Regions from separate parts of the Homo sapiens genome. Here region 1 is linked to region 2. Evidence: fine-mapped expression QTL. A gene starts in region 2. The other region holds a variant in brackets. All regions are shown on one strand. Distances are from middle to middle.

Region 1 (16,171 bases), 30 kb after region 2:
TAAAAACAGAAATGCCATTCAACCCAGCAATCTCATTACTGGGTATAAACCCAAAGGAATACAAATTGTTCTATCATAAAGACACATGCACATGTATGTTCACTGCAGCACTATTCACAATAGCAAAGATATGGAATAAACTTAAATGCCCATCGATGATACACTGGATAAAAAAACATGGTACATATACACCATGGAGTACTATGCAGCCGTAAAAAAAAACGAGATCATGTCCATCGCAGGAACATGGATGAAGCTGGAGGCCATTATCGTTAGTAAACTAACACAGAAACAGGAAACGAAATACCACATGTTCTCACTTATAAATGGGAGCCAAATGATGAGAACACATGAAAACGTACAGGGGAAAAACAGACACTGGGGCCTATCAAAGGGTAGACAGTGGGAGAAGGGAGAGGATCAGGAAAAATAACTAATGGGTACTAGGCTTGGAACCTGGATAATGAAATATAATCCATACAGCAAACCCCCGTGACATGAGTTTACCTATATAACAAACCTGCACATGTAAACCTGAACTTAAAATAAAAGTTAAAAATAAAAATAAATAAATACATAAAAACAAATGTCTGGCCTCATTAAAATTTGAGTTAAAACTATGATTCATGAGAAACTTTTGTTGTTAGAGAAAATTATTTTCATGACCCAAGCTGAACTCTAGGCTATGAAGAAACTAAATCTAAGAGAAGGCTTCACGGTGACGTCTAGAGAGGCTTTAGGAGGTCCTCAAGGAACCTCCGCTTTCCTTTGGTGGGTGTTTGTTGTTCCCTGTGTAGCACTCACTTTCCCTTCTTCTAATGGCTCCTTTAGGCCATGTCCTATCCCCGTGGCATGCAGTCTTGGTGGGATAGTCAGCAAAAGTTTCCTATCAAGGACACACGGTTCAAGCTAGACCTATCTGTTTCCTAAAAATTAAATATTGGGTAGAATGACAGAAGAATAGGAAATTGTTGGGGTTGATTCTGTTTCTCACTCTTTCTCTCTCTTCCTCCCTCCTTCCCTCCATCTGTCTCCTTTTCATTGTGTTAAGTTAGCCAGGAATAGTTTCCACTGATTGCAACAAAAAAATCCCAAATGATATATTGCAGTTCATGCATCTCAATATCTTGTGAATCTAGTTTAACCGTCAGGAGGGCAGCCACAAGGGTAAGACAGATGAGGGGAACCTGGACAGAGATACCGAGTTTATAGCTTTCTAGAAAGCTCACTAGAATTTCCAAGTTGCTTCAAAATGGCATATGAGGAAGAGGAAAGGGACAGTGGAAGACTGTATAGAATGGAAAATCCTGCAAACATGTGCCAATGGAGGCTCTCTTGGGCACTAATTCAGGTTATGAGAGGCATTATGAGCAAGGCACAGCAGTCAGAGGGCAGTACCATGGGCCAGCTGAGTCACCGCCATGACTCAGGTACCGGCAGAACAATAAGATGGAGTCCATACACTAAGGTGCCATTCAAGAAATATTTAGGGCAATATCAGATGGATGAGGCAGAGCACCCTGGAGCAACCGGCCGCAGCCACAAGGAAAGACATGGAAGTATTGGCCGCAGCAAGTGCCAGAATTGAAGGCTACTTGCTCAGCCATTGCAGGAGGCTGTCATTTCTGACCTGGTGTCCTCACTGGCTGTTTCCCCAGAGAGAATGGGAGAGTTCTAAGGGAAATCCGGGTGTCTCAGAGGCTCCTCTGTATCACTGCTGTTGCCCTCTGTCAACCTAAATAACCAACAGAGAAAGCCTCTCTAAAAGAAAGTGGTGCTTATTCAGGAAAAGGGCATTGCAGTATGGGAGCCACAGTAAACAATGTGTGTATTCAGGGAGATAAGAGGTACTTAAAGAAAAATGAAGATGATTACTTTGACAACTTTCACACTTCCAATAGCTGGGAAGAGACCCTAATCTCAGGACTCTTCAGGGTCTTCTACAACCTCCATATTCAGACCTACAAACAGCAGGATCTTCCAGGACCTCCCATTCTGGAGTAATTGTTTATAAAGGGAAAGTCATACAGCACAGTGGACCTGGAGTTTGAATTCCTTTCCCCTTTGCCACAGCTGCGAAGCCCAGAGATGCCCAGTAGCCATTTCACAGGGTTGCTGTGAGGATAAATGAGATGTTGCACATAACGCATTTAGCACAGAGTCCCACGCACATGAAGTGCTCAACAAAGTTAGAGAGAGTGCCAGCAAAGATGCTCACTGACGCAACCAGGGACTGCTCCAATTCCTTCATTGTCACTATGAAACTCCTGTACACATTCTGTGGAAGAAAAAAGCCTGCTGCTATGCTTGCACCCCATGACCATTAAGTGGCCCTAGAAGACTTCTACTGCATGTGGAGGGGTCAGAAGGGCGGTGGCTGTTGCTTCAAGAAGGGGGAACGGGAGCATCTGGCAGTGACGTCCCTTAAAGCCAAGTGGCAGCTGATTCACACAAATGGTATTTGGATAGAGGTGGAAGGAGTAAGAGAGAAGCCTGCCCCTGCCTCCCAGAAGCTGGCTCCTCTCTCATCATTACAGCTGCCATCTTTCATCATCCAGGCCTCCCCCAGATGTGGCAGACAACTCACCCATAGAATCTCCTCCCACACCAGGAACATGTTGAGACTTTGTTGCCTGTTCCTGGCACTCTTAGGATCTGTGCTCTGGTCCCTTGCGTAAGTGGCAGAGAACAGCACCAGAAGAAAAGGGGTATGGGGAGATTGAAAATTGTTTTTGATGCAGCTGGAGAAAAAAATACATTCGACATTTAGGTAGATATAGTATTATGGCAAAATAAAATACTCATGTTTAGAGGAGATCCATGTTCACAGAGAAAAAAATCACAAGTTGCAACAGTTAGCAACACAAGGCTCAATCCCTCCACTTGTACAGCTGCTTCCAGCGAGTCATGGCATTGTTGGCTCCAGCATCAGGGGTACAATGATGGACACAATGAAAATTAACTCATTTCATTTAAAGTCAGAATATAACTTCAGCAAAAAAATTAAACTTCCTTTGGGTATTTGCACTACATTTTTAAAATATAGAAATTTCCAAATATTTTTTTCTATGTTCACGTCCAATTGCTTTTTCAACATCAACAAAATTCCACTTGGAAATTGTTCTGCTGTCACACTGCCCCTTCAGAAATGGTCCACAGGTTAGTGGTGCTGAATTCTCAGCTCACTCTTAAAAGTTCCCTGGAGGAACTCTAGCACTCATTTCCAGTGGCTTCATATATGAATCTAATAACAATATTTATATTTGGTATGTGGATAAGAAAATATTGTTTACCTCGAGTCCCAGACCTTGTGCTAAGCACTCTACAGGTGTCGTCTAATTTTGCAGGTAACAAACATGGGAGAAGTTCACATCAGAGAGCTGGTAAGTAGGGAAGCTGGGATTCAAACCTGACCCACTTCTTTGCAAATCTTAGGTGACCTTGATAGAGTTAGACGGGCATGTTTCCTCATCATGAAGACTCCAGTTTTTATAACTGTCTCTATGTCCACAGTGTCTGGCATATATTATTAGAAGCCCCCCCCAAAAGTTTATTCTTAGTCATTGGTTTTACTTCTTTAAGTGGGACACACCTGCATTTACCTCCTCCTACCGTATTCCAACTCCATAACCAAAGTAAAGCACTCCACATCTGTAGCTCTCTCTCTAGAATTCTGGGAGTAAGGTTGAAATCTAAAATAGGAGTTCTACAAAAACAAAATGAACACTTTTTTTTTTTTTTTTTTTTTTTTTTTTTTTTTTTTTTGAGACGGAGTCTCGCTCTGTCACCCAGGCTGGAGTGCAGTGGCGGGATCTCGGCTCACTGCAAGCTCCGCCTCCCGGGTTCACGCCATTCTCCTGCCTCAGCCTCCCAAGTAGCTGGGACTACAGGCGCCCGCCACTACGCCCGGCTAATTTTTTGTATTTTTAGTAGAGACGGGGTTTCACCGTTTTAGCCGGGATGGTCTCGATCTCCTGACCTCGTGATCCGCCCGCCTCGGCCTCCCAAAGTGCTGGGATTACAGGCGTGAGCCACCGCGCCCGGCCAAAATGAACACTTTTTGTTGGTTACTGAGAGAACTAACAAAGCTTGTTTTGAATTGACATTGCTGTTTGATTGTCACAGGTTTCTTCACAGATTAGGATAAAGGATGAAGAGAAGTAAACTGAATTACTAAGGATGCAACATTAATGGAGAGAGCCAAGTGATGTAAATCGTGGCTGGCCATGAGTGGATCTTGAGTGCCAGTTATCTAGGTATCACTCCATCCAGTTTCCCCCTCTCATTCCGGTTGCCAACACAGGCATCAGAGACTTTTTCCAACTCATCCCTGCTCACACCTCATAGCAATCCCCTGAGAATACATATATTGCTATCCCCATTTTACTGATGAGATAACTGGCTTAGAGGAGCCAAGCAACTTGCCCAAGATCACAGAACCACAGAGTGGCAGAGCTGGATTACAACCAGCTCCCTCTAAGCCCTTAGACTGGTAACTAATATTCTGTTTTCTAATAAAACCCTAGCCTTTTGTAAAAGATGCACTTTAGGAACATTCCTAAGATAGGTAATGACCTGCAGAGATTGCATTTCTGATCCAAATCAAACCTAGGCTGAAGGAGACGAAGCAAGGGCCAAACACAATGATTCATTGCCTACCTTGTGAAAGACAACAGTAATTCTAGGTCAAAGTCTAATGAACGGATGTCCGCATAGCAATTAGCAGTGCCGGCATCCTGACTGGCAGTCTTGGCAGAGCAGCTGTGATCGTCATAGAAACTGTACTCCTCTCTCCCCCACAGAGAAATTCCACGTGGCTGTTCCAGGATGGATTAGGCACCAATGACTCTCTTTCACCCTCGAGCTGGAATCCTGCCCCTTTAACACCTTTCCAGAGAGAGGCAACCCATGGAGGGTCACAGCAAGATGGGATGGTTGTGCCTGGTAGTAAAAATATGTATCACTCTTCATTTCATCCAGCTTTGAAGCTTCTGCTAGCAGCTCACACATGACCCCAAGGGCAGCTCCTCAAGTCTGCTAAAGAAAAGTTAAGTAGAATTAATTTTGTTCAATATCTCCCATTTTGTTAGATTCATCATTTTCAGTCAAGAATGACAATATTAATGGAACCAAAAGAATATATACTATTAACATTTCGTCTTAATTCTACAAATGTCTAAAAGTCTCTGTAATTCCCTTAAAAATAAAAAAAATGCAATATTAATTTAGGGAGCACTCTAGTTGAGCAATCAGTTCTATAGAAAATCAACGTTATATTACTCCTATTATTTACAGTATATGGCATTACATCGTAAAACTACCTTATCTTTTACTTGGGAAGACAAGGGGTGGAGGATTTGAAGAACCAAAACTTACAGAATTCCTAGTATGAACTGAGCATATTACTTCCTCTGCATCTACAAGCTTCTTATAATTATCTCCATCTTGTATGAAAGAAAACAACCTTCAGAGAAATTAGATAACCAGTTCTCTGTCTCACAGACAGTGTGAAGCTGGTATTCAAAGCCCCGGCTGTCTGACTCCAAAATCTCTGTTCTTTCTACTCCAAATTTCACATGTATTTATTTTACTTCACATGGATCTGTATCTGGGATTACTCTGTAATACATAAATTATAGAAAAAAAATTTGGCTGGGCACAGTGGCACACGCCTGTAATCCTAGCACTTTGGGAGGCTGAGGTGTGTGGATTGCCTAAGCTCAGGTGTTCGAGACCAGCCGGGGCAACATGGTGAGACCCCATATCTACTAAAAATACAAAAAAAAAAAATTAGCTGGGTGTGGTAGTGCATGCCTGTAATCCCAACTAATTGGGAGGCTGACGCAGGAGAATCACTTGAACCCAGGAGACAAAGGTTACAGTGAGCTGAGATCGAGCCACTGTACTCCAGCCTGGGCAACAGAATGAGACTGGCTCCAAGCCACGCCCCCTGCCCCAGAGCACCAAATTTAAACTAGCTGGAACCCAACTAATTAAAATCTTGAATTAAATGATTCTTCCTCTACCATATCTCCATTCTCTGCCACCATCACATTCTCAGCCTGTAGGGATAACAAGTGGGGACAAAACAACTAGGACCTATGATTGTTTTTAATCTTTAAAATGTGCCATGAGGTAAAATAATTAGCCCAACTTCCTAAATCAATTCCATTACACTGTGGTAACAAGGATTTCTGATATAAACCCAAAGCATTGTGAGATTTTAAATTATTGAAGAAAGATTCAATTATGTTCAGGATATCCTACTTAGGCAGGGAAATGTACTCATTTCCCTAAGTTTTTAGGTAATAAACTGAAAAAAAGTTGATTTTTTTTTTGTGTGTGTGTGAGGGGAAGGGACTATCTAGAAAACTCCATCACATAGTTCCTTGACTGCGTAGGTTAGTCTATATAATTATTTAAAAAGAAAACTTCATTTCCTTCCCAACCCCAAAACTACCATGTAGATAAAAACAAGTGCCAAGGGCAATGAGGCAAAATGCTTGTATTTGAATCCCAGTTCCATCACTAGTCAGCCTTGGGACCAATGGCAAGACCTTACCTCTTTGGCATCAGATGCTGCAGCAATGAAATAATGAGTTAGAATAAGATAATCTCCCAGTC[C/T]TTGCCTGGGGTGTGCATTTATGAATTCATTCATTCAACAAATATAAATATTTTCATAGACACAATGTTTCAATGTTTTATGATACCATCTTGACATTCATCAGCATTACATATTTATTAGGCAGAGTGATTACAAAGAAAGACTCAGTCATTTCCAAGGAGCTCACAAGGGGAAATCTGACATTTACACAACAGTCAAAGGTAGCCAAAGGAAACAACAATGGTCAGTATGAGCAAGGCACTACAGGATTCCCCAAGAATCATTTAATTTTTTCATTATTTCAGTAGTTGTGCTAAGACAAAAGTGATGATCTATGGAACACTCCTTAGCCTCCACACTGGACATGAGATTGTATTTAGTATTTGCTCTGCAGTCCTCCCTTGTTGTGAAAAGCACATATATCCAGAATAGTGACTAAACATAACCATAGGCAAATGGCTACATGCACATAGAGAGTCTACACAGGAAATGTGAACATATATGTACTGAACATTCATACATCAATATCCATCATATTTGCCTTCAATTCAGTGCTATAGCAAATGTTTACTGTGTGTTTGGTGCTGAGTGGGCTATAGAGGTAGAAAAGAAAGGATCTTGCCCCTCTAGGAGCACACCACTTATTCCATTTACTAAGAAAGACGGAAATATAACCAATTCCAACAGGGGCAATGATAGTGGTTCTAACAGTAATACTTCCAGAGTGTAGGAAAGGAATACTTAATGTTGTCTAAAGAATCTGGGAATTCTCAGAAAAGATAGGACTTTATCTGAGCTCTAAAGAAAGAGTAGCTCTTTGATGGGGCAATGTGTGTGAAAATGTGTATAGAGAAGCAAGAAGGCCTAACCTTTTAAGTAGTAACAATATGTCCAGACCCAGTGATAGGATCCATGTGGGCCAGAATCAGTAAATCCATATGGGTGCAGCATTAGGTCTTTGAGGAATGTAGTGGAGATCAAGGTTAGAAAGAGACACCAAAGCCAAGCGCAGGGGCTCACGCCTGTAATCCCAGCACTTTGGGAGGCCGAGGCAGGCGGATCACCTGATGTCAGGAGTTTGAGATCAGCCTGACCAACATGGAGAAACCCCATCTCTACTAAAAATACAAAATTAGCCAGGCGTGGTGGCACATGCCTCTAATCCCAGATACTCAGGAGGCAGAGGCAGGAAGATCGCTTGAACCCGGGAGGTGGGGGTTGTGGTGAGGGTGAGCTGAGACTGCACCATTGCACTCCAGCCTGGGCAACAAGAGCGAAATTCCATCTCAAAAAAAAAAAAAAGAAAGAAAGAAAAGAAGGAGACACCAAAGCCACAGAACTTCACTCTGATATTGAGTAACAATTAAGAGCATGAAATCTGGAGCTAGACTTCCTGAGTGTGAATCCTGGCTCCATGTGAACTTAGGCAAGTTACTTAGCCTCTTCTGTTACATTAAAAAGAGTTGAAGTGTGGGAATGCTTTAAACAGTGCCTAGTATTTAATAAAGTCCATATATAAGTTCGGTATTCAATATACAATGGGGAAGCAATTAAGGTAATGGAATTAGCGTGTGACCTAACTGGTCTACTTATATAGTTTTCCTTACTGTGCTATATTAAGGAGGCTGTATTTAGGAGCTGAAAAAGGAGTTTGTGGTTGTCATTGTGTTGCAAAGTTAAGAGGAATATATATTTCATCTATGTAATTAGTAATGATAGGTTCTCAGTCTTGGGAGCTCTCAGGTTGTCCAGATCCCAAAGACAGACCATGGACGATGGTTCACATTCTCAGAAACTCCTGGGATTTGGAAGGCACATTTCCTTTCATTAAAATACTCATGGTAGGTACATGCTTTCATATGAAATGATCATTCCATTTCTTATTTACTCTTTCATGATTTTTATTAGATTTTCTTAGAAAATACTAGTGTATTAGAAAATAAAAATTAGGGCTCATAGGAAAGAACATTGGATGTCTAGCCAGATTGGAACACATAATTCTTTTAAGAGATGCCAGGGACATTTCCCTCTTAGGAGAACTGGGAGCAACAGGCTTAAAGGGATTCTACACACTGCATTAATTATTAGAACATGACTCTTTGTTCCTCTATTCTATTACTCACTGATTACAAACCTTAAGGAGAAAGGTCATTATTACAAACAGCAAGAAAACAGAGGTTTAAGTTAAAATTGTCTTGGAAGGCTGTAAAACGGTGATTTTCCTTCCTTTGAGGAATAGTAAATGCAAGTATTATAATTCATAAGGGCTACTCCTTTATACAATTCAAAATCAAAATCTCATTACTCTCATCATCGCATTTTCAATAAGAATTAATTTCTGAATTTTATTAATTTTAACTATGGACTCTGCTCAATATTCTCAGGTTTGGAGAAAAAGTAGGGCAGCATTTCTATTCCATGCACTGAAAAAGACCTGGAAACGAAGCGCAAAAGCCATCACACTCCAGGAAATGTAGCAAGGCAGTGTGACCTAGTTGTAGACCCAGACAACTGGTATTCTTTTCTAGTTTTCTGCTCTCTGGGCCACATCATAGTCCTAACTTCTCTGAGCTTGGTTTTCTCTCTCTGTTGAAGTGTACATTAATGCAGGGAATTTACTATTGTGGTAATATTCTTGTAGTCACCAATGGTAATTCTCTCTCTCTGTCTCTCTTCCTCGCTCTTTCTCTCTCTCTCCTTCTCTCTTTCTCTCTTATTTTGCTTTATAAAGACTCAAACTAGAGGGTGATAGCTACCCTAAAAGTCCAGAATTCACCACTACACAATATATTCATGTAATGGAATGGCACTTGTACCTCTTAAATTTATTTTTAAGGCTCAAACTAGGAAGAAATTAGATTTTATGTATACATTTATGAATATGTATGTATACTGTACATGATGAAATTATATAATATACAGTCATGTTGTAGATGTTTAAAAATCATGCTTCCAGCCAGGCACGGTGGCTCACGCCTGTAATCCCAGCACTTTGGGAGGCCGAGGCGGGTGGATCATGAGGTGAAGACATAGAGACCATCCTGGCCAACATGGTGAAATCCTGTCTCTACTAAAAATACAAAAATTAGCTGGGCATGGTGGTGGGCACCTGTAGTCCCAGGTACTCGGGAGGCTGAGGTAGGAGAATCGCTTGAACCCAGAAGGCAAAGGTTGCAGTGAGCCAAGATTACACCACTGCACTCCAGCCTGGCAACAGAGCAAGACTCCGTTTCAAGACTAAAAAAACAAAAAACAAACAAACAAAAAATCAATATATTATAATTCATCATTGTTATTATTTTAATGCTTAAATGTTTCCCAAATTTAACCCAAGGGAGCCCAAGACAGTTCCTTATCCATTGGTCATTGCTTCATGATTTTCTGAGCATGTCTTGCTTTCCAGCACAATAGTGTATTCCAGAAGCATATTTATATACTCCTCACCTGGAATTGACCACTTCCCCCAAGGAATTCTGACTCCCTTTAGTAGGCAATGGTCTTTAGAAATCAACACCTGAAAGTCACAACTGGAATTTGAACCCAGACTGTGAGACTGCAGAGCATGCTCTCAACATCGTACTATATGACTCTAATTAAGTATAATATCCTCTAATAAGTGAGGTACACCAAAGATGCTCTAGGAATACAGAGGAGGATGTGGGTGGAAAAGAAGGGAGGATTTCACTGGGAAGGCTTGCCTTGCAAATCTACCTTTACTGTTATTTCCATGCTGATACCAGAGTGATTTCATTTAACCACCTGGACACTATGGAAACAGTCTTTCCTACTTGGGACCAAATCTATCCCAAATTATGGTTTTCCCATATTTCACCCTAGTCACAAAAATGTCTGAAAAACTCCTCTTTCCTGGTATTCAAAAAGAGCTAAGAGAAGCCACTCCTCTCCTTCATTCTACTCCTTTGACTTCCTTTACACATTCACACATTCTGTTTCGGATTTCATTGTTTCCTCAAAGCATACAAAGTCTCTTTCAAAAGGAATTCTCTTTCTTCAGAGTCATGGTTTGGGAGCTTCTAACTCCTACCCTTCTCATAATAGACCTCTCCAGACCTCATTATCTTAGCATAAAAGTTAGTACAGAATGTCAGCATGTTTAAAACCCGACTTCTTTCCTTTCTGCAAATAAATAAATAAACAAACCCAAGTTTAGATTTCAACTATCTTGCCTCAGCCATGTGTGAGCACCTCTCAAATCCACATTTGTTTTAAGAAGGCAATTTTTTTTTACCCTAAGTTTAAATTTGCATTGTGAGGGAGTATAGGAGAAGATGGGCAGCTTGGAGTTAACACCAGGCCAGGTTTCCTTAAAGGGAGCAGCAAAAGCAAGCCAGCTGAGTGATCACCTGGGTTGCAGCGCCTGAAAATACAGAGCCTCGTGGTTTTGTGCAGTGCTAGATGGAGTCTCTTCCCTGGCATCCTTCACTTGTCACTACCGTGTGTTTTCTTTAATACTATTGCTACTGCAGTTGCCACTGCCGCTATCAGTAATGAAATTAATAATAATAATAACATCCTGACCTATTCTGCCATCGCAAATTTCAGTCCATTCTAGCCCGCAGAGGAGATGGCCAGCCTGTAACACTGCAGTTGAATATTAATTAAGTGATCTTTCAGTAGCACAAGGGAAGGAATCAAGGGCCTGTTTAAAACCATTCCCTTAGATCTATTGCAGATAGGAATCAATAAAGCATCCATGTTCAGGGTCACAAGTTGGCTTGGAAAACAAATCCACAACTGAGAACCCTATGGCCTCCCCTGGAGCACTCCAGGCCAGATCTCTCCCTGTCTGATGACAAACTCCAAGAGCCAGGGTAACCCATTACTCACTCCCAAGCTGTTGTGGGCTTTTTTTTTTTTTTTTTTTTTTTGCTGTTGCTTGACTATAAGCCAAACAAAATGAACGTTCATATGGTGAACTTGGCAGCTGTCCCACTCCAGACTGTGCTTTTCCACAAGCCAAAGGAGGCTTTGAAGCTGGCCTCCCCTCCACTTTGCCCCAAGCTGGGGAATTACCCTTGGAGGAGCAGAGATCAGCTGGCACTGAGCCATGCTGCCCTTTGGGTCAGGAGACATTCAAGAAAGGCCCGGCCTATGGGCCTCATAGCTGAGCAGAATGACTTGGCCTGTTCCCAGGGCTGCCAAAGGTGTCCTGTATCTTTTTGCTGAATTTCTAGGGATAAAAGCTTAGCATTTTATACTTACACCTTAACATAAGAATATCTGTCCTTTTGCCTGTATGTATTGAGATAGAAAGGTGTCCCACTGCAAGGCTTTAGAAATGTTTTGCAAACTCACACTCAGTTTGCCAATAATTCACAGTAAAATCTGAACTCACATAATCAAGATTGGATACAAAGAGCACTGGAATGAAGGGATGGATGAGTGAACAAATGAAATTAGACTATACCACGAAGGAATGGAGTACATGAATGAAGACCAGACATCAGGAATCTGGGTTTTGGTCCTGGCTCAGTCCCTTCCTGACTTCTCATTTAACCACTTGCAGGTCAACAGCCCCACCTAGAAAATAAAAGACTTGGAGAAATTATTTTATCTCTTCCAGATATAGATGATTTATTATATCACTTGTGTGCATATACAGATTAATAGTCAAGCATGAAAGCAGTCTATAATTTGTAGCCATCAGTAACAATCAAACAGCCTCCAAATAACCGGAAATCCAAAAGCAGCCAAAAATTGAATTATACCGCATGATTAACAAATTGTGAATATGAATTTTGACTCTGTCACAAGGTCAGGTTACTCAGCCTCTGTGGCATGGCTCACTGTAAATATTCTAGACACATGTGCTCTCAAACTAAAGTATTTTTAAAATATAACAAAATTTACCCTTAACAATTTAAATTGTTATATTTAAATTGTTGTTATTAAATTAAATTGTTGTATTAAATTAATTGTTATATATAAATTGTTATATTTAAAGTATAACAATTTACCCTATATATTAGGGTAAATATTATATTTACTCTTGGGATATTATACTAATGTCCCAAGATGGACACAGATAAGCTCTTCAAAATGGTTCCTATTTGAATACTCTAATTCTGGAGGAAACAAAGTGTTCGAATCATACCAAAGGTCTTCCAAGTAATGAACAAGTAAAGGAGCACTTCATAAAGTAAACTAGAATGCCACAATTAGTATGGATGCTTAAGATTACTCAAATGTGTGGTTTTTCTAACACTAATCTAATTTAGAAATGTATATTATAGTATTAGAAATGAATACTATAATTTAGAAATACTCACTACTTCTGACTATTCTTTTTCCTCTATTTTTATTTTGTAATTTTGAATTTTTTACTTTTCCTTTTAAGAGACAGGGTCTTGCTCTGTCACCCAAGCTGCTGTGCAGTGGCATGATTATAGCTCACTGTATCCTCAAACTCCTGGGCTCGAGCAATCCTCTTGCCTTGGTTCCCAAAATTCAGGGATTACAGATGTGAGCCACTGTGCTTGGCAATTTTAAAGTCTTAAAACAGTGTTATATTAATATAAATCATGGTAGGATTTGACATTTCAAAGAACTTGAGGATAAAAACATTTCTTAGGGGACCAAAAATGATCACTAATTTGTAAAATGGGCCTAGACTCACCCACATCTCCCAAGTGATGTTTCCTTCTTCAGAGCTGCTCTACATGTAATTAAGAGAACAGAAGGGCCGCCTGCATCAATCAAATGCACAACCTTCCCTAGCACACACAGTTCCAATGAAAATCCAAACAGCTATTGGGATGAACTGAGGAATGATGTTTATCAGGTCTTCAAGGTGAAAATACCACCAGCATTTATTACTGAGAGAAGAATCTTTTAGCAAACAATAGACCAATAAATTTTACCTCTCAAAAAAGTGTTTCACTTCATTCTTCCACTTTTGACTCCAAGTCATAAAAGACCCAGCGCAGAATAAAGTAGGTATGCTGAGAGGGTTTAGACATCCTCTCTCATGCCCAAGCAAGATCATATGCTTAAAAATGGTCCTTGGCAGAAGAATATATCTTTAATTTCTTTAACATATTAAAAATTAAGCCTGGGGCTGGGCGCTGGGGCTCGCACCTATAATCCCAGCACTTTCGGAGGACGAGGCGGGCAGATCACCCAAGGTCAGGAGATCAAGAACAGCCTGCCCAACATGGTGAAACCCCGTCTCCACTAAAAATATATAATTAGCTGGGCACGGTGGCATGAGCCTGTAATCCCAGCTACACGGGAGGCTGAGGCAGGAGAGTTGCCTGAACCCTGGAGGCGGAGGTTGCAGTGAGCCGAGATTGTGCCATTGCCCTCCAGCCTGGGCAAAAAGGGCAAAACTCCATCTCAAAACAAAAACAAACAAATGAAAAACCAAACCTGGAAGAATAAGATCATACAGTTTTCCCAGCTGTGTATGAGATTCTTCTCACCAAAACTTAGCCACAAAGCTGGAGTTAGAGCGAAAGAGGCCGTGAAGTAGATGAAAAAAAGAGAAGCCCTTCCTTTTTGGAGACTGGGCGATTGTGGTTTTAGAGAAAAATAATAAAACATATATTCTCTGATTCCATCTGTGTTAAAACTGCAAATCAGAGTTATATTTGAAAAAATGTAGGAGAGAAATCTCCTTTTGCTACATGCACTTTAAATTCTCAAGGAAGTATACTAGCTGTGTTCTCAGAAGAAAACAAATAGAATGCTAGATAATATTTACATCCCTTGCATACCAAACCAGAGGAAACAAACAGCCCTGTTCAGAAACTGGGCAGGTGAGGAAACAGTTTAAACCTGAAGGAACTCTATCACTGTGTTATGCTCCTGGAGAAGCAAGAGACCTCCTGAGATCATCAACTTTTAAAAGTAGTGTTTAATCTTCCAGGGATGAACCTTCTATTGCAACATACATAATAACAAAGTTTGTAAAACATATTGTGGCATTTAATCTATAGATGCTTATTATAGGAAATAGAAGTTATTCATTTAAACTGTAAATGTAAATACCAGCTTGTGTCAACTGACACACTACTATGTAAATTGTATAGATACTTCTGTAAGTCAGAGAGCTCCAGACTCCGTAGTCTGAACTTCCCTTTGCAGATTGAATAAGAAAAGCTAAGCAAGTGATGTTTACCACACAGTTTCATGTAGCCCAAATGATGAAGAGCCATTGTGAATATCACCTACTTTGACCCATAATGCTCCACTGTCCTAGAGATTATATTTTACCGTCTTGGTGACTCTATTGTTTTGCAGTTCGGGTTTGGATTTGATAAGTAAAATGGCAGCGTGAAAATGTTAGCCTCATGCTTAATAGGCTAGGCTATGAGGAAGAAAATGTTAAACAATAGCATTGGCATATTTTTTCCTATATATTTGAGAACCAAAAATTAAAATTAAGAAGGCAAAATAGGAATACATAGGTTTTAGAAATAATAGTGCATATATGCTCCAAAGTATACTATTTACCATTCAATTAAAAGAATCAAAAGAACTTTATTGATTGGCAAGAAAAATTAGAAAAACAAATATATATAAAACAAGAATTGCTCTCTCTAGCAATCTGTAACCCAGTTGGGTGATGGCCTCAATTAGACAGAAGCAGTATAATTGGGAATTTGATCTTTGCTCCTTTGTCGAGTTCCTAGAAAATTTCTTTAACTGTAGATGGAGAAATTATTCTAAATGATAGTCAGCAAAAAAGAGCATCTGAAATACATTTCTCACTCTCTGGAGAGTGAGAATGGCCCAGCACAGATTCCAGCATTATAAATAGGATCTTCGGCATGTACTTGACATAGGAATATATCAGGAATCTTAGTAAAGATGGGGAGTTTTCACTGTTTCAAGCAGGACAACCACAGTTTCCACGTATCTATGTGTTGGTTGTAACCTAGGTTGCAGGCAACTGCAATCACCCAAGCACACCCATCACTAGTGTGCCATTCCCAATGTTCATAACTTGCACTTTGTCAAGACTTCATTGAAAAAGTACAGGCAATAAGTGGGAAAAATAATTGTTCATTTGGTGGCAAATTTAATGGGTTTTGAAGCCTGAGGTGTGGGCAATACACCCACACACACACATGCAAACACACACACATTGATATGGTTTGGCTGTGTTCCCACCCAAATCTCAACTTGAATTATAGTTCCCATAATCCCCACATGTCGTGGGAGAGACCCAGTGGGAGGTAATTGAATCATGGGGGTGGTTACCCTCATGCTATTCTCATGATAGTGAGGGAGTTCTCACGAGATCTGATGGTTTTATAAGAGACTTTGCCCCCTTTGCTTGCCACTTATCCTTGCTGCCGCCATGTGAAGAAGGACGTGTTTGCTTCCCCTTCCACAGTGATTGTAAGTTTCCTGAGGCCTCCCCAGCCCTGCAGAACTGTGAGTCATTTAAACCTCTCTCCTTTATAAATTATCCAGTCTCGTGTATTTCTTCATAACGGCATAAGAATGGACTAATACACATATTTTAGAAAGGAACTCTAGCAATTCAATTTCTAATCTAATTATAATGTTCATAATACCACATTGTTCTGAGAAGTAGTT
Region 2 (15,290 bases):
TATACCTACATCTCCAACTCCTCCAACTTGCTCGGCGTACCCATCTAGATGTCTACTAGGCACTTCAATCATAACTAGCTCCAGATATTCCTTCCCCTCTCCCCACATACACCCCAACACCATACTTCCTCTAGTCCTCTCCATTTCAGTAAATGGGAACTTCATCATCCAGTTTCTCAGGGCAAAAATTCTGGAGACATACTTGACTCCTCTCTTCTCATATCCCTAATCTAGTCCATCAATAAACCCCTGCTGGCTCCATCTTCAGAATATATTCAGAGCCTATTCTTCCCACCATCTGCCCTGCTATTGCTTTGGTAAAAGCCGCCATCATCTCTTGCCTGAATGATGTATTAGCCTGGCCACTTCTATCCTTGCTGCTCTCCAGTCTGTTCTCAATGCAGTAGCCAAAGTAACTGTAGGAAAGGTAAATCAGGGCTGGGCGTGGCAGCTCATGCCTGTAATCCTAACACTTTGGGAGGCCAAGGCGGGTGGACTGCCTGAGCTCAGGAGTTGGAGACCACTCTAGGCAACATGGTGAAACCCCCTCTACTAAAATACAAAAAAGTAGCCGGGAGTAGTGGCACGTGCCTGTAGTCCCAGCTACTCTGGAGGCTCAGGAACGAGAAACTCTTGAGCCTGGGAGGCGGAGGTTGCAGTGAGCTGAGATCAGGCCACTGCACGCCAACTTGGGCTACACAGTAAGACTCCGTCTCAAAAAAAAAAAGAAAAGAAAAGAAAGGTAAATCAGGCCATGTCACTCCTCTCCTCATCCCTCTGTTGACCTCTCATTTCACTCAAAGTGAAATCCAAAGTCCTTAAAGTGGCCCACAAGTCCTAAAAATCGAGCTTCCATTTTCTCTCTGACTTCACGTTTCCCACTCTTTCCCACACTCACTCTCCTCCAACCACACTGACCCTGCTGTTCCTCCAGTATGCCTGCCACTTAATGACCTCAGGAGCTTTGCACTTGGTATTCCCTCCACCAGGAATATTCTTTTTTCCAAACATTGACATTCCTGTGTTCCTTCACTCGCTTCAGGTCCCACCTAATTGTCACTCCCTTGGAGAGGACTTTCTTGACTACCTTCTATAAAATTGTATTACATTTCTCTCTAGTTCCTAACTCAGCTTCAAATGGGTTCATAGCACATTATAGATAAATATATAAATAATTATATACAATAAATTGTATGTAAAAATATAAATATATAAATAAATTATACAGTCATTTATTTATGGTTCAACTCTACTAAAATCCAAACCCCTTTAGGGCAGGGACTTTGTTGAGTTTGTCCAAGACAGTGTCTAAAACAGCGCCTGGAACATAGTAGGACCAAGTAAATATTCATTGAAGGAATCCTTGAAGTCTGAATTATTCATTTAAACAATTCAAAGTTTACATACACTGTCCATAGTGGCCACTAAACTCATTGACTGTATTACCCCTACTATAAAGCATAGTATAAAGCAAAATTTTAAGTTTCAAACTAAGACTAAGGTACTCTCATTCATGATAGATCTAGGGGTGGTTATAGGCATTCATGAAGATCTTCTTAACCACTAAAAGTGACATCAAGCCAATAACTCATGCCCTTCCACAGGCACACCCCCAGCCCCAACCCCAGCATGTGCCGCCCACCCAGTACAGCTATCACCAGTAGGCTCTTCTCTTCCAGAATCATTCACATGCTTTGTGTCCTGGCTAGAATACTGTTTCAGATGAAAAATAAATCTCAAATATAGACACTAAAATCTAACATATACAGACACCAAATTTCTTAGATATTCACTGGCCAACTGCATTTTATTTAACTGTATTATATAATAAGAGGAACATGTTAAATGTATAACTAAATATGATTAATGTTTACCTCTTTAACCTATCATAAATAAAAACAAACACTAAATCAGCATGAAAAAATATACTTATTTTTGAACTGAAGATCATCCTCTTACCAAGATGGCAAGATCAAAAACAAACTGATGTCAACAGCCAGAAAGAACAATAAGTAAGAAAACTGGGATCCCATCCATGCTTTTATTTTGAAAGATAATCAACTAACTTATTAAGATTCCAAGATTCAAACCTATAATTGAGCAGTCATTATTTGCAGTTATTTATTTTTTTAAATGCAAACAAGGCAGAAGGCTAACAGAGAATAGAAAGGCATCCCACTCACTGGAATAAACACTCATTTTAAAAGGCTGGTCATTTTATAGCCTCTTTCAGGAAAGCTAAACAGGCTACAAACAAAACATCAATAAATTAAAATTTCTTTTGTCAACATCTGCTCTTTACAGTCTCAATATGTCACAAAAGTCAGAAGTGACAGCTTCCAGTTATTTCTCAGGTTAGGAGATCATGTGCTATAAAAAATAGTCTATTTCAAATTAATATCTTCAACAGAATCTAAGTAGACAGAACGACTCTCAGACATACCAAAACGCCACAAGTACTAGTAATGACATCTCTAACTCCAGGGGAATACATTCTGCTGGGACATGACAGGGTTGTACCAGGTTAATAGTGTATTCACTACAGCTAGAACCTTTCCCAAGAAAGAGATGAGTAGTTAGCGGCAAAATGTCTAGGGTTATCAGCCCAAAGGAACCGGTAGGCCTCTACAATTGTTTTAAAATTTCTATTGGAACCTATTACTCTTAATATAACAATAGCAGAAAAAATGTTTTTCATAATTTTGCTAATAGTAAACATTTATTAAGTACATGTGCTAGGCACTATAAGCATGTTAAATACGTCAAGTTGTTTCATAAAATCATTTCATAAGTCTCATTAAAGGATTTAATGACAACCTGCATGATACAAACTCATCGGCCTAGCATCCACTTGTTCAGCAGCCTTGCCTCTCTGCAATGAGGCCAAGAACCATGAGGAAAGCAAAAACAGACATCACCAGGCTCAGGTACTAGCCTTCTAGGATTCACATTTGAGGGAAGCACCCTCTCATAGGACATTACAGGAGAAACTGTACTTAATTTGGAACCAGAAACCTCAAGGTTGAACAGACTTAAGAACTCAAAAGTGCAACGGCACAAAGAAGGTCATTAGCTGTCCTACTTACCTTATTATAACCCAGTGATTTACCATCTGATAGCATAGTGTAATAATTCCTTTAGGGCAAGTATCCTGGTGTGCTCATTTTGCTACCCCCACTAGGGAACAGAACTCTTAGAGCATTGTATGTGCTCAATTTTCATTAATGATGCTTATAATGACAATCTTTGGTCATCAGAAAGATTAAATTACATCTAACATAAGAGGAGAAGAGTGAAACACATTCAAAACGATTCTCATCCATTGTTAGCATTCAAATAAAGGCTTCGAGGTTTAAAAAGGTCTTCAGCTGTCCAGAAAACGTGATTATTGAGAGCAACTGCTGAGAGTTCCAGGAAACAAGTTCCAGGAAATGTGCACAGTACTGTACTCCCTACTGGTGGGCCAAGGCATCCTGACCCACGCTGCCTCCTGAGGCTACAGGCAAAGTGGAAAATGGGGATGTGTGAGAGTAGCTAACTGCAGCTCCCACCATAATAGAAAAGTCTGCCAAACCCCTCAAAGGAATTTCCAGAGTTGAGACAACTCTGAAGGGGTACCGAGAGGTAGCAATCACCATGCATGTTTATGGGGGTATAAAATAATTTACCTCACTTTTAAATACGTATGGCTCTCCCCACTTCCATGCCTGTTCTTTCTTAGGGACTGCCCACCAGCAGGTTGAAGGCAAACAGGCAAGGAATGCAGAATCTGAAGTGCAGGGGACCCTGATGAAACACTGACACCAAGAATCACAGATGACTGTGTGTGCTCTAACTTTAAATACATACTTATTAAATCATATAAAGTCCGTTCCTTCTTAAAAGGCGCTGCTCTGGTTGCTAAGTAGCTGAGGCTCTGCGTCATAGAGGATTAGTGCTGAAATGTGTCAGGGAGAGGGCTCTGTCCTCTCCCTTTTAAGTTGAAAGCAGTTTGGTTTTTTGTTTTGTTTTAACATTCTGAAAGAGAAAGAGGCTCTGAACCGAGTTTAACATCCTTCTGTACAAAAATTTTCCGACAGGACAAATAAACTACTCTTCCACTGAACTGTGACTTTTGAGCTGACTCTAGGGTGCACCCAACCTTCCAGAGGTGTCTGGCTTAACCCTCAAAGAGGCAGCTCCAGCCCCAGGAGCCGACCGGCACCACAGCACCTGAGCAGGGCACTGCAGGAAGGAAAGCGGAATCTCTAGTGAAACTTCTCATTTCCTGTCGCTGCTGAGAGAGGCTGGACTCGCTCCTTCTCACATGGCTTAGGAAGAGCTGTAAACGGGAGCTTGCCGGCTGGCCACCAGCTCAGGGGCCCTGGGGGCGGCCTCCGGGTTCTGCTCCCTGTTCTTCCCTTTGACCAATGTCACTCCTGGACAGATAACGGGACCAAACGCCCTTCACTTCCTCGAGTCCTCATGTATGTCATGGTTCCTCTTTTAGGAAAACATGAGTACAAGACGCAAAGCAAAAGAAGAGACTAAAGGCAAATTACCCCATCACCTCGTTTCGTCCCTCCCCTTCGTTATTATAGAAGAGCTTGATCAAATTCCCTTTGTCGCGCCACACACACGCAGAGTAGGTGAAGGGCACCCTAAGACAACTTATTTCTTTCCCGCCTCACAGAAAGCCTTTACGAAATCCTCACACCATCTCCGGACGCAAAGCTTTCGCATTCAGCTTGAGGAGCTAAACCATTTCAAGCCAAGGTAGGAAACGCCAAAGTGGTGCCGAAGTGGTCCCAAAGCAGAAGGCTGGGAAGCAGGGCAAGCTCAGCGCACCTAGACGTTTGCATTTACACAAAGAAATTAGCCGCATGATTAATGGGAGCTGCCGGCTGGAGGCGGGGCGCCCGTGCCGGCCTCCTCACCTGGGACATCTGCGGCCTCAGGTTGATCTCCTTCAGGTTGATGGAGTGCGCCCGGAGGTTGTTAAGCAGCTGGCAGAGCAGGACTCCATCGCGGAGGGTCTGCGCAAGGTCGAACACCTGAGCCGAGTCCCAGGTCACCCGGTGGTTGGTGGGCAGCACCTTGCAATGGATGAGCCACTGCGCGCACTGCTTCCACGGCTCCATGCCCGACGGCTCCGGGACGCGGCTGGGCCGGGGCGGGCGGCAAGGATGCGGCCGCCGCCGCCGCCGCCGCGGTTCCTCCGCGCCCCGCCGACGCCAACAGCCGCCGGCCCTTTCCCCGCGCGGGATCGAGGGAGCAGGAGCCGCGGCTGACGGGTCGCGGGCGCCGCGCTAGGCTCGGCTCCGGTCCCGGCCCGGGTGCGCCGCGACCCGGCCGCCGCTGCAGCGAGTCCCGCGCGCTCTCCGTGCGCCCCGGCCGGCTCGGCGGCGGCTGCCGCGCACAGGCTTCCGACTCCAGCGCCCGGCCCGCCACTGAGCATGCCCAGCACGCCGGCCGGTCTCGCTGCGGTCCGCAAGTCCCCAGACGCGCGGGTGGGAGCGCGCCGGCGGCCGGGGCTGGGGTCTGTGGCCGAGGGCGGGGCGCGGGGGAGGGGCCGGCGGAGGGGGGCGGCGGCCAGAAAGGGGATCCCGCGCCCCCGCCTGCAGCCTTGCGGGGCTCACGCAGCCCCCGGCGTCCTGGGGTCTTCTCTCGGGGCGGCTTCCCGGCTTTGCGGGGAGTGTGGCTGAATACTGTAATACGATGGGGTCCCCCAGGACCCCCTAAACAACAAATGCTCAAAGGAGCGACGGATTAATTGGGGCACCCAGACTCCCCAGAGCAATGAAAAAAGTGCCTAGAGCATCAGTAGAGCACGGCGCTGAAAGTTTTAGAGATCGTCGCCCCCTCGCCCCTTGCAGCTCTATCCCCTCCATTCTCTATAGCTGATTCCTCAGCCTATTCCTCCTAGTTGCCCCTAGTGGTGTTTTGGCACCCTCAAAGTGAGTGAGAGTGCGTGTGTGGAGACGCCTGCGGAAACCGCCCCGATCCCTGAGCCTATTTCCTCGCGAGGTGATTTTCACTTGGAGCTGGTTTGCCCCTGCACTGTCAGGCTCGGAACTGTTTGCCGTTGCTGTTCTGGCCCTTTTGCTGACCCCACAAAAACCTGCTTGAGAAAGGCCTGTGCCACGGTGCTAGACTGCGCATGCGTCGGCGACTGGCGGCCGGGTTTGAGAGCAAAGCGCGTTAGCCCTGGGCAGCTCCTGCCGGGCTGTTCTGGGATCCTTAGTGAAAGTTGGAACTTGACCCCAGAACTTTTGCGCAGTGCACAAGCAGTGCATTCGTGTTTCTTAAGTAAATCTTTTGGAGACTCTAAACCCTACCCCTTTTACTCCCACTGCACACTGCCCCTCAAAACCACAATTAATGTTTAAATTATTTGTGGCAAGATATTGCCACAGTGAATTATTGCTGTTCGATAGGAATGTGGTCCTTCGTCACCCTTTTGAGATGCATTCACTTAAAATTAGAAAATAGGCCGGGCGCGGTGGCTCACGCCTGTAATCCCAGCACTTTGGGAGGCCGAGGCGGGCGGATCACGAGGTCAGGAGATCGAGACCATCCTGGCTAACACGGTGAAAACCCGTCTCTACTAAAAATACAAAAAATTGGCCGGGCGTGGTGGCACGCACCTGTAGTCCCAGCTGCTCGGGAGGCTGAGGTAGGAGAATCGCTTGAACCCATGAGGCGGAGGTTGCGGTGAGCTGAGATCCAGCCACTGCACTCCAGCCTGGACGACAGAGCCAGACTCTGTCTCAAAAAACAAACAAACAAACAAACAAAAAGATGGGAGTTTGGATAATTTAATTGTATTATATTTCTGTAGCCCAAATTTTTTATTACGAACCATGCTTTATAAGCAGGCCAAAATATTATTTTTAAAAGAATGATCTGTTCAGGATAGTGATTGCGTCCTTTTTCGTTTGGCTGTGACAAGGATAGCACACTGTTTACACTCAGCGCTGAACAATAAATCAGCCTGAGGATTTCCTTTCCTCACACGCATCCTTCCCTAGCAATTTCCTCTTGTGTTCAATGCGGATTCCATCAATAGCACGACATTTTCTAGGCCATAATTTTGGCAAATAAATCATACTAATCTCTACATACCTTTAGAAGCAAAATCCAACACATTTGAATCACCATTTAACACAGTCTTTCATAAAGAGAAATTAAAAAGAAATTTCATTAAACGGGTCAAAATTTAAACTAAAACTATGAATTTTTTTCAGGTAGCATCAGATCACCTTTGGATGTTGGAGAATATTTCCAAAATCCACATTATATACACTATCCCAGGACGCAAATCTGGATTTAGAGCCCGAGCTGTACTGCTTTCTAGCAACATGACCTTGGATAAATTCTCTACAGTTCAGTTTCCATAGATACGAAATAAGAAATTTTTTTTTTTTTTTGTGGGGGGTGGACGGAGTCTCGCTCTGTCGCTCAGGCTGGAGTGCAGTGGCGCGATCTCAGCTCACTGCAAGCTCCACTTCCCGGGTTCACGCCATTCTCCTACCTCAGCCTCCCAAGTAGCTAGGACTACAGGCGCCGGCCGCCACGCCCGGCTAATTTTTTTTGTATTTTTAGTACAGACAGGGTTTCACCGTGTTAGCCAGAATGGTCTAGATCTTCTGACCTCGTGATCCGCCCGCCTCGGCCTCCCAAAATGCTAGGATTACAGGCGTTAGCCGCCGTGCCTGGCCATAAGAAGTAATTTCTAACTAATAGGGTTGTTGTCAGGATCAAATGGTACAATGTCTTGCTATTCAAAATGCAGCCTGTGGACAGCAGCATCACCCTTGAACTTGTCAGCACTGTAGACGTTTGGCCTCTACTCTCATACTGAATGAACCAGAACCTGAATTTTAAGATCTCCATATCCCATGTATTTCCATCAAAAGCCAAGAAGCACTGATACAATGCATAGAATGTGTGGTGCCTGATAATTAGAGCTCAATAAATATTACCCAATAGTAGCCACTTTTCATTAACAAGTGGCAACAACGACCAAATATTCTATTTCACTTCTCTGTATATAATATATGACTTCAAAACATAATGCTTCTCAAATATAGTAAACCACAGAGTTGATAGAAAGGCAACAGGAAAATATATGGAAGGCCTAGAAGGGAAGGAGTTTAGTGGAGACACGGGATTCTTCACGTAAACAAGGAGCTAAGTGCCAATAGGTGACTCGTGAAAGACATTTAAGTGTCAGAAATTGGTGCAATAAAAATGCAATGGGCTTCTCACCTGAGTTATCCTTACTAAAGGAAAAAATTACAGTCTTTTCCCTTTACAATTTTTTTTTTTTTTTTTTTGAGACAGAGTCTCACTCTGTCAGCCAGGCTGGAGTGCAGCAGATCTCGACTCACTTCAACATCCGCCTCCCGGGTTCAAGCTATTCTCCGGCCTCAGCCTCCTGAGTAGCTGGGACTACAGGCACAAACCACCACACCTGGTTAATTTTTGTGGGGCTTTTTGGGAACCAGCCCTTGTCCCAACAAACCACTGACCTCGGCCTCCAGGCCTGCCCTGGCTGGTCATCAGAGCAGTAAGTGAGAGCAGGAGGCAGAGGCTGGGGAGGACAAGGGAGAGGGAGTGGGGTCCAGTGCAGGGAACAGGGCCCTGTCACCCAGGCTGGAGTGCAGTGGCACGATCTCCGCTCACTGCAACCTCCACCTGCTGGGTTCAAGCGATTCTCCTGCCTCAGCCTCCCGAGTAGCTGGGACTACAGGCATGCACCATCACACCCGGCTAATTTTTGTATTTTTAGTAGAGATGGGGGTTTCACCATGTTGGCCAGGCTGGTCTCGAACTCCTGAACTCAAGTGATCCGCCCACCTTGGTCTCTGAAAGTGCAGGGATTACAGGTGTGAGCTATCGCACTGACCTCCCTTTGCAACCTTAAAGGAAATGTTCCACCTAGTGAAGGCAAGTTGGGAAATAGGGACCAACTCATCAGTGGCAACTCCTTGCTAATCCTGGTACCTAGTGTTCTTGCGGTGTGCAAGAAGTTCTTTCTTGCATATCTGACGTGTGACTTCAGGACCCCTCCTATGGTCCTACTGCCCTTGAGTCCTTCATAGCCCCTGTAGTACATCCACACTCTACCATTTGCTGAATGCCCACTATGTGTCAAGCACTCTTCTGGGCACTTTACATGCACTGTCTGCAAGTGAGAAGATGCTCTCCCACCCATTTTAATGAAGAAGCTAGAGATCAACAGAGTTAAGCATCTTGCTCTTTATTAGGGAACTCAATAAAAGGATGAGCTTGTGTCTCCACATCTGCGCCCCTTCTGTTCAGAGCTGTGGCTCAGCATTAAAATAATTGCTGTATCAAGCTTAATTACTGGTTTAAACATCGTTCTCCCTGCTAGACTGAAACACCTTGAAGGCAAGGGTGGTAACTCATTCATCTTCAAATTCCCAGAACCAACCTTGGTGCCTGTCACATGACAAACAATAAATATTAGTTTGGTGAGTAAATAAATGAACAAGCTATGTTAACCCTCTTGCTCTCCCTCCATCCCTCTCTGCCTTTCTATCCTGTCTTTCTGGTGGTGAAAAGATCAGGAAGGATTTGCCAGCATTACTTGTAACAGGCATAAGAGTCACATGAAAAAAGATCTGCTTTTTTCTTTTTTTTTTTTTTTTTTTTTTTTTGAGCCAGAGTCTTACTCTTGTCACCTAGGCTGGAGTGCAATGGTGCGATCTTGGCTCACTGCAACCTCCGCCTCCCGGGTTCAAGCGATTCTCCTGCCTCGGCCTCCCGAATAGCTGGGATTACAGGCGCCCACCATCATACCTGGCTAATTTTTGTACTTTTAGTAGAGACAGGGTTTCTCTATGTTGGCCAGGCTGGTCTCAAACTCCTGACCTCAGGTGATCCGCCCACAAGAGTCTACCAAAATGCTGGGATGACAGGCGTGAGCCACCGCGCCTGGCCTGCTTTTTTTGTGTGTGTCTCGCTAGTCTTTCCGTGCCCTCCAAGATGAGCAGGCTGCCCTCTGTTTCTCTTTTGTATCACAGTGTTGTTTGGATCTTGCTTCAGCCCTACACTGTATGAAAACAGGAAATGGGATAAGTGGCATCCTGAACTGCAGGAAAGACAAGGATGACAGATGATGGATATCACATACTAGGTCCCTTGCCATGTTCAAAATTATATCCTACATCGTAGGACATTCTACATCAGGCCAAATGTACCAAAAAACTGAAGTAAAGGATCTGAAAGCCACATTAATTCATTGCCTGCTCCATCTGTATTGTCTCTCCACTCCTTACTGACTTTTTTTCTTATTATTCTTCCAACTCTTAATGTTTTTGTTTGTTTGTTTGTTTGAGATGGGGTCTCACTCTGTTGCCCAGGCTGGAGTGCAGTGGCACAATCTCACCTCACTGCAACCTCCACCTCCCGGGTTCAAGTGATTTCTCCTGCCTCAGCTTCCCCAGTAGCCGGGATTATGGGCACACTCCTGGTTAATTTTTGTATTTTTAGTAGAGACAGGGTTTTACCATATTGGCCAGGCTGGTCTTGAACTCCTGACCTCAGGTGATCCACCCGCCCTGGCCTCCCAAAGTGCTGGGATTACAGGCGTGAGCCACTGCGCCCGGCCTTTGTCTTTATTCCTCATTGTATTTCTTTTTTTATGTTATAAGAGAAGTAAATCATGGATGGTACATAACCTATTGAAGATAAATCAGTTTCTGAAAGAATTGAAGATGCAGAAATACAAATATTGTAAACAGCAAACTGAAATCCAGACTGTTTGCTGGATTAATTTCCTTCAACTACAATCAAATGTAGTTTGGTTTCACATACACATTAGGGATGTGGGCTTTACATTTCTGGTAATTTGATACTGTCTTTAAAGTAAATACCAGAAAAACACTGGGGAGATAGAATGAGGGTAGAGTAAGATTTCTATAATAACTGTTCCTTTAATAAATGTGCCCAAATCAGTGTGAATTTAAAGATTTTGGAATTAGGTACAAATGAGCAGGGTCTTGTTAGGATCACAGGATTTCTTTTCTCTTCTGACATGTTCAAGTCCTTGATTATAATAATAAAGGTAACAAAAACAATGACAATAACCCATACTCTAAATGGTGCTTACCATCTAACAGAAGAAATTTACTTGAGGTAATTTATGACACATAAAGCTTCCAATTCAGGAGGCCAGGGATGGTGGATCACCTGAAGTCAGGAGTTCAAGACCAGCCTGACCAACATGGCGAAAACCCACCTCTACTAAAGATACAAAAAATTAGCCAGGCGTGGTGGCAGGCGCCTGTAGTCCCAGCTACTCGGGAGGCTGAGGCAGGAGAATCACTTGAACCCAGGAGGCAGAGGTTGCAGTGAGCCGAGATTGTGCCATAGCACTCCAGCCTGGGCAACAAGAGCAAAACTCCATCAAAAAAAAAAGCTTCCAAAGAAGCAGCTTTAAAAGGAGGATTAGAACATGACTGTAAGTCTATGTGTTACAAGGGATGGATTAATAAAAGACCAATTAACTAACCAATGTCCAAATAAATGAAATAATGAAATAAATGGAAATACAAGTGTTCTTCCCACTCTGTGAGTATATACCCCACCAACACACACAGAAAATGAGGCTCCAAAGATTTACCTCACTGAGTTAATTGCACTTCAGCTGGGTCTTTTCAAAGTCTGGTTCACATTAAACATTCTGCAGCTCTCAAGCCATGATTAGACATTAGTCCATTTTCAGAACATTAGTGGTGATACACATATATGTTATGTTTTAAAGATAACTAAGGAGGTTAAATTTACAGGGAAAAGCTAAATAGCTCTGTGTATTCCTGTCAACAACTAAGGACCTTAATCTAATTTGTAGAATATTTAAATCCATTTGCATGTTGGTATGAAGAAATTGCCAGGGAGAAAGTTCTTTATACAGAGATTGTGAATTTTAAAATCCAATGCAAAGAAACTTTTGTGGGAAGTCCTTGATGTCCCTTTTTCCATATAATCCTGTGTATATCACAATCGTTTTACTAAGTTCTTTGCAGAATAATTATCTCTTTAAGTGTCTGAGACCCCAACTACCACCAACCTCCTTTCACCCCAACCCTGACTATCTTTGAGGTCCTTGGAAACAGAGATTGTACCTTATTCATGTCATTACTCCAATGCCTGGCACTTAGTAGAGGATAGATGGATAACTGGATGGATGAAGAGGTGGGTGGATGAATAAATTAGGTGAAGAGGGATGTAAACCATGTCATTATAGTAGTGATGAGAGAGGAGAAAATTTCACTTACCATTTTGGCATGTCACTCAGATTTATTCCTGCCACCAACAATGTCCTTGGAAAAATAAAGTGATACAGAAGGACAGATTGGGTTTACCCATGTAGAGAATGCAGGAGTACTAGAAAGCACCCTGCCTCCATCCACATTCAAAACCAAAAAAAAAAAGTCCTTGATTTATGTTTAACAATTAAAATTCATTATAGAACAATTAGAAACTCTCCCTGGAAAATGCAATATATTTAAATTCATACCTCATGCCTGAGATCAGATAATAACAGCAGCAACAGCTATTTGTTGATGATATTATGAGCACTGACAACTAGCTATTGAGCTACCTACTTCATATGTATGGTTTTATTTGATTCTCATAACCTCTCTGAGGTGTTACTATTATTGACCTCATTTTGTAGATGAGGAAACCGACTCTAAGCAAGCTCAACTATCTTTCCTAAATTCAAATAGCCAATAAGTAGCAAAGCTAGCATTGGACCTGGAACATCCTGATGCCAAGATTCACACATTTAACCATGATGTCATTCTGCCTCTCTGGAGATTTAAGACAGAGGGATCCCTAAGAGCAGATGCCAACAAGATGGCTTTATACACAGCCAACTTTAAATGTTCCACACCCTGCAGAAAGTCATTAACAAAACATAATTTTACATTTTATTTACATGAGTGAAACTTCCCCCCATTCCTATTCAAATAGCAAGAAAAGAATCAAGATTTGTTTGGTAAAGCAATTTTAATTTATTTTTAATTCTTAAAATGTTCCAGTTTTAAATGTTTCTAAATTTCTTTAAGCATTCCATTTAATCTTTTCTAATGTAACCGTTTTGTTTTATTTTGCTGTGTTTTGTTTCATTTTGTTTCAGACTGACATAAGGTTGTGAAATGCTGTGCTTTAGAAAACCTGTGGGTATCTTTTTTGATCATCAGAATCATAACAGTGTAGAAGTGATTCAAAAAAGCTTGACCAGCTTTTCTGGGAAAGGACAGGACAAAGCTAAAAAGCACTAAAATGGAAACCTAATGTGCCATATTAATCTCACACACATGCACACGTAGACACTTACACAATTATATATTTTTGCAGACTATGCTCCATTTTGCAATCTTGGCATTAGGTTACCTGTAAAATCATAAACTGGTTTCTATTGCACACACAAATGGAAAAAGGAAGACTCACTGGCCACACCAAGAGTGCTCATCTGGTCAGGATGAAAACACAGTAGCTTTTTCTGCTTCATTGTTTGTTTTGACACTGGCTACAACGTTTCATCTGTTCTTTCAGAAATTTCCTAGATTTAGGGAATAACTCATATGTTCGGCTAGCTTTGTTTCTCCTTTTGCTGACATTTCTCAGGGGCTAATTTCTTAGGCTATTTAAATCAGAATATATCATTGGGGTGTAAGAAAGAAAGAGATAAGTCTAAAGAGGATATCTCTGAGAGAACAATAATCATTCAGATTATTTTAAAGAGAGAATAGGATGAAATTGGTAGGCCTGAAGAAAATAGGAAAATTTACATATATATATGTAAATGTCCAATCTGCCCTAACCTATAAAATCTGATTTACCTACCTCATTTAATAAATATTAATTTTGCACTTTCTAAAGAACAAAAACACTCTTCTAAATTTTATGTGGGGTTATAGGGTGAGAGTAAAACAGTGTCCCTAAACTAAATCCCTGTGAAAATGTATTTAACACTTAAAGATGAGAGTAGGAAAGATGGCACGAAGAAGGCACTCTATATCTTTCTGTGTGGAAGTGTTTAGTGTAAACTTCTTATGGCACTTGAGACAATGAAACTTATGAACCAGCACTGAGCTGGAGGGATTGCTGGACAGGCAGAACACAGAAGGTCCACTGTAGTCTTAGAAGGGCATCTAGCTAAATGAAAACTGTCATCTTCTAGAATCCTAATATGTCCATATTCTTGTTCCTTTCATTCTGTCTACTTAATCACTCTAAGTGCCAGGAACCAGGAATAATTTCTGGGGTGGCTCCAGGCACAAAAATGTTAACAGTGATGCAATTTGATAAATCAAAACGAGTTGAAGGCATTAGTTGAAAACTCTAAAATGTTCTAAGGAACTCAAACAACTCAATAACAATAAAACAAATAACAGATTTCAAACGAGCCAAGGATCTACATAGGCATTTCTCCAAAGAGAACATATAAATGACCAACAGGGTATGAAAGAAATGCTCAATACACTAATTGCCAAGGAAATGGAATTAAAACCACCTGTTAGAATGGCTATTATAAAAAAGACAAAAGATAAGTGTTGGTGAGGATGTGGTAAAAAGGGAACCCTGGTAGATTGTTGGTGGGTATATAAATTAGCACAGCCGTTATGGAAAATGGTGTGGAGGTTCCTCAAAAATTTAAAAATAGAACTACCATATGATCCAGTATTCCCACTTCTGGAAATGATACCATTATGTCAAGAGATACCTGCACTTCCATGTTCATTGCAGCATTATTCACAATAGCCAAGATATAAAATCAATCTAGTTCAACAATGGATGAATGGATTTTAAAATGTACTATAATAATAATGGAATACTATTCAGCCTTTAAAAAGAAGGAAATCCTATCATTTGCAACAACATGGATAAACCTGGAGGCCATTATGCTAAGTGAAAGAGGTTGGGCATAGAAAGACAAATACTGCCTGATCTCATTGCATGTGGAATCTAAAAATGTTGAATTCACAGGGACAGAGTAGAATGGTTGTTGCCAGGGGCTGAGGCAGGGTGGGAGCAGGAATGGGGAGATGTTGGCCAAAGGGTACAAAGTGACAGTGTAACAGAATGAATAAGTTTTGGAGATCTATGGTATAGTATGGTGATTATAGTTAATAATAATGTATTGCATACTTGAAAATTGCTATAAGAGTAGATCCTAAATGTTCTCACCACACACAAAAAATATGTAAGATGATGGATGTATTAATTCACTTGACTTAATCAGAAGTAATCTCCCAAGTGGTTCAGCTGTC

Which allele goes with the higher level. Alleles are on the strand shown, and positions count from the first base shown. SD is a standard deviation of normalised expression in the study named.
For the expression in spleen of the gene that starts at base 4,694 in region 2, allele T in region 1 goes with a lower level than allele C (small effect, 0.39 SD a copy in GTEx).

The links. PIP is the estimated chance that this variant, and not a neighbour inherited with it, causes the effect.
Region 1: its variant is fine-mapped to the expression of VAV3-AS1 in spleen (GTEx, PIP 0.97).

What each region holds. Positions count from the first base shown.
Region 1 is chr1:107,989,380-108,005,550 of GRCh38, forward strand. It overlaps VAV3-AS1 (VAV3 antisense RNA 1), which reads left to right. Exons shown (of 3, transcript NR_046653.1): 2 at 4,126-4,256; 3 at 4,803-5,228. Among named protein-coding and RNA genes, the nearest start is that of VAV3, 32 kb to the left of the region's middle. The variant C/T (reference allele first, on the strand shown) is at 6,625.
Region 2 is chr1:107,959,750-107,975,039 of GRCh38, forward strand. It overlaps VAV3-AS1 (VAV3 antisense RNA 1), which reads left to right and starts at 4,694. Exons shown (of 3, transcript NR_046653.1): 1 at 4,694-4,755. VAV3 (vav guanine nucleotide exchange factor 3) reads right to left here and starts at 5,431. Exons shown (of 27, transcript NM_006113.5): 1 at 4,917-5,431. The coding sequence starts at 5,120. RefSeq lists enhancers at 4,442-4,571, 5,918-6,212, 6,148-6,217.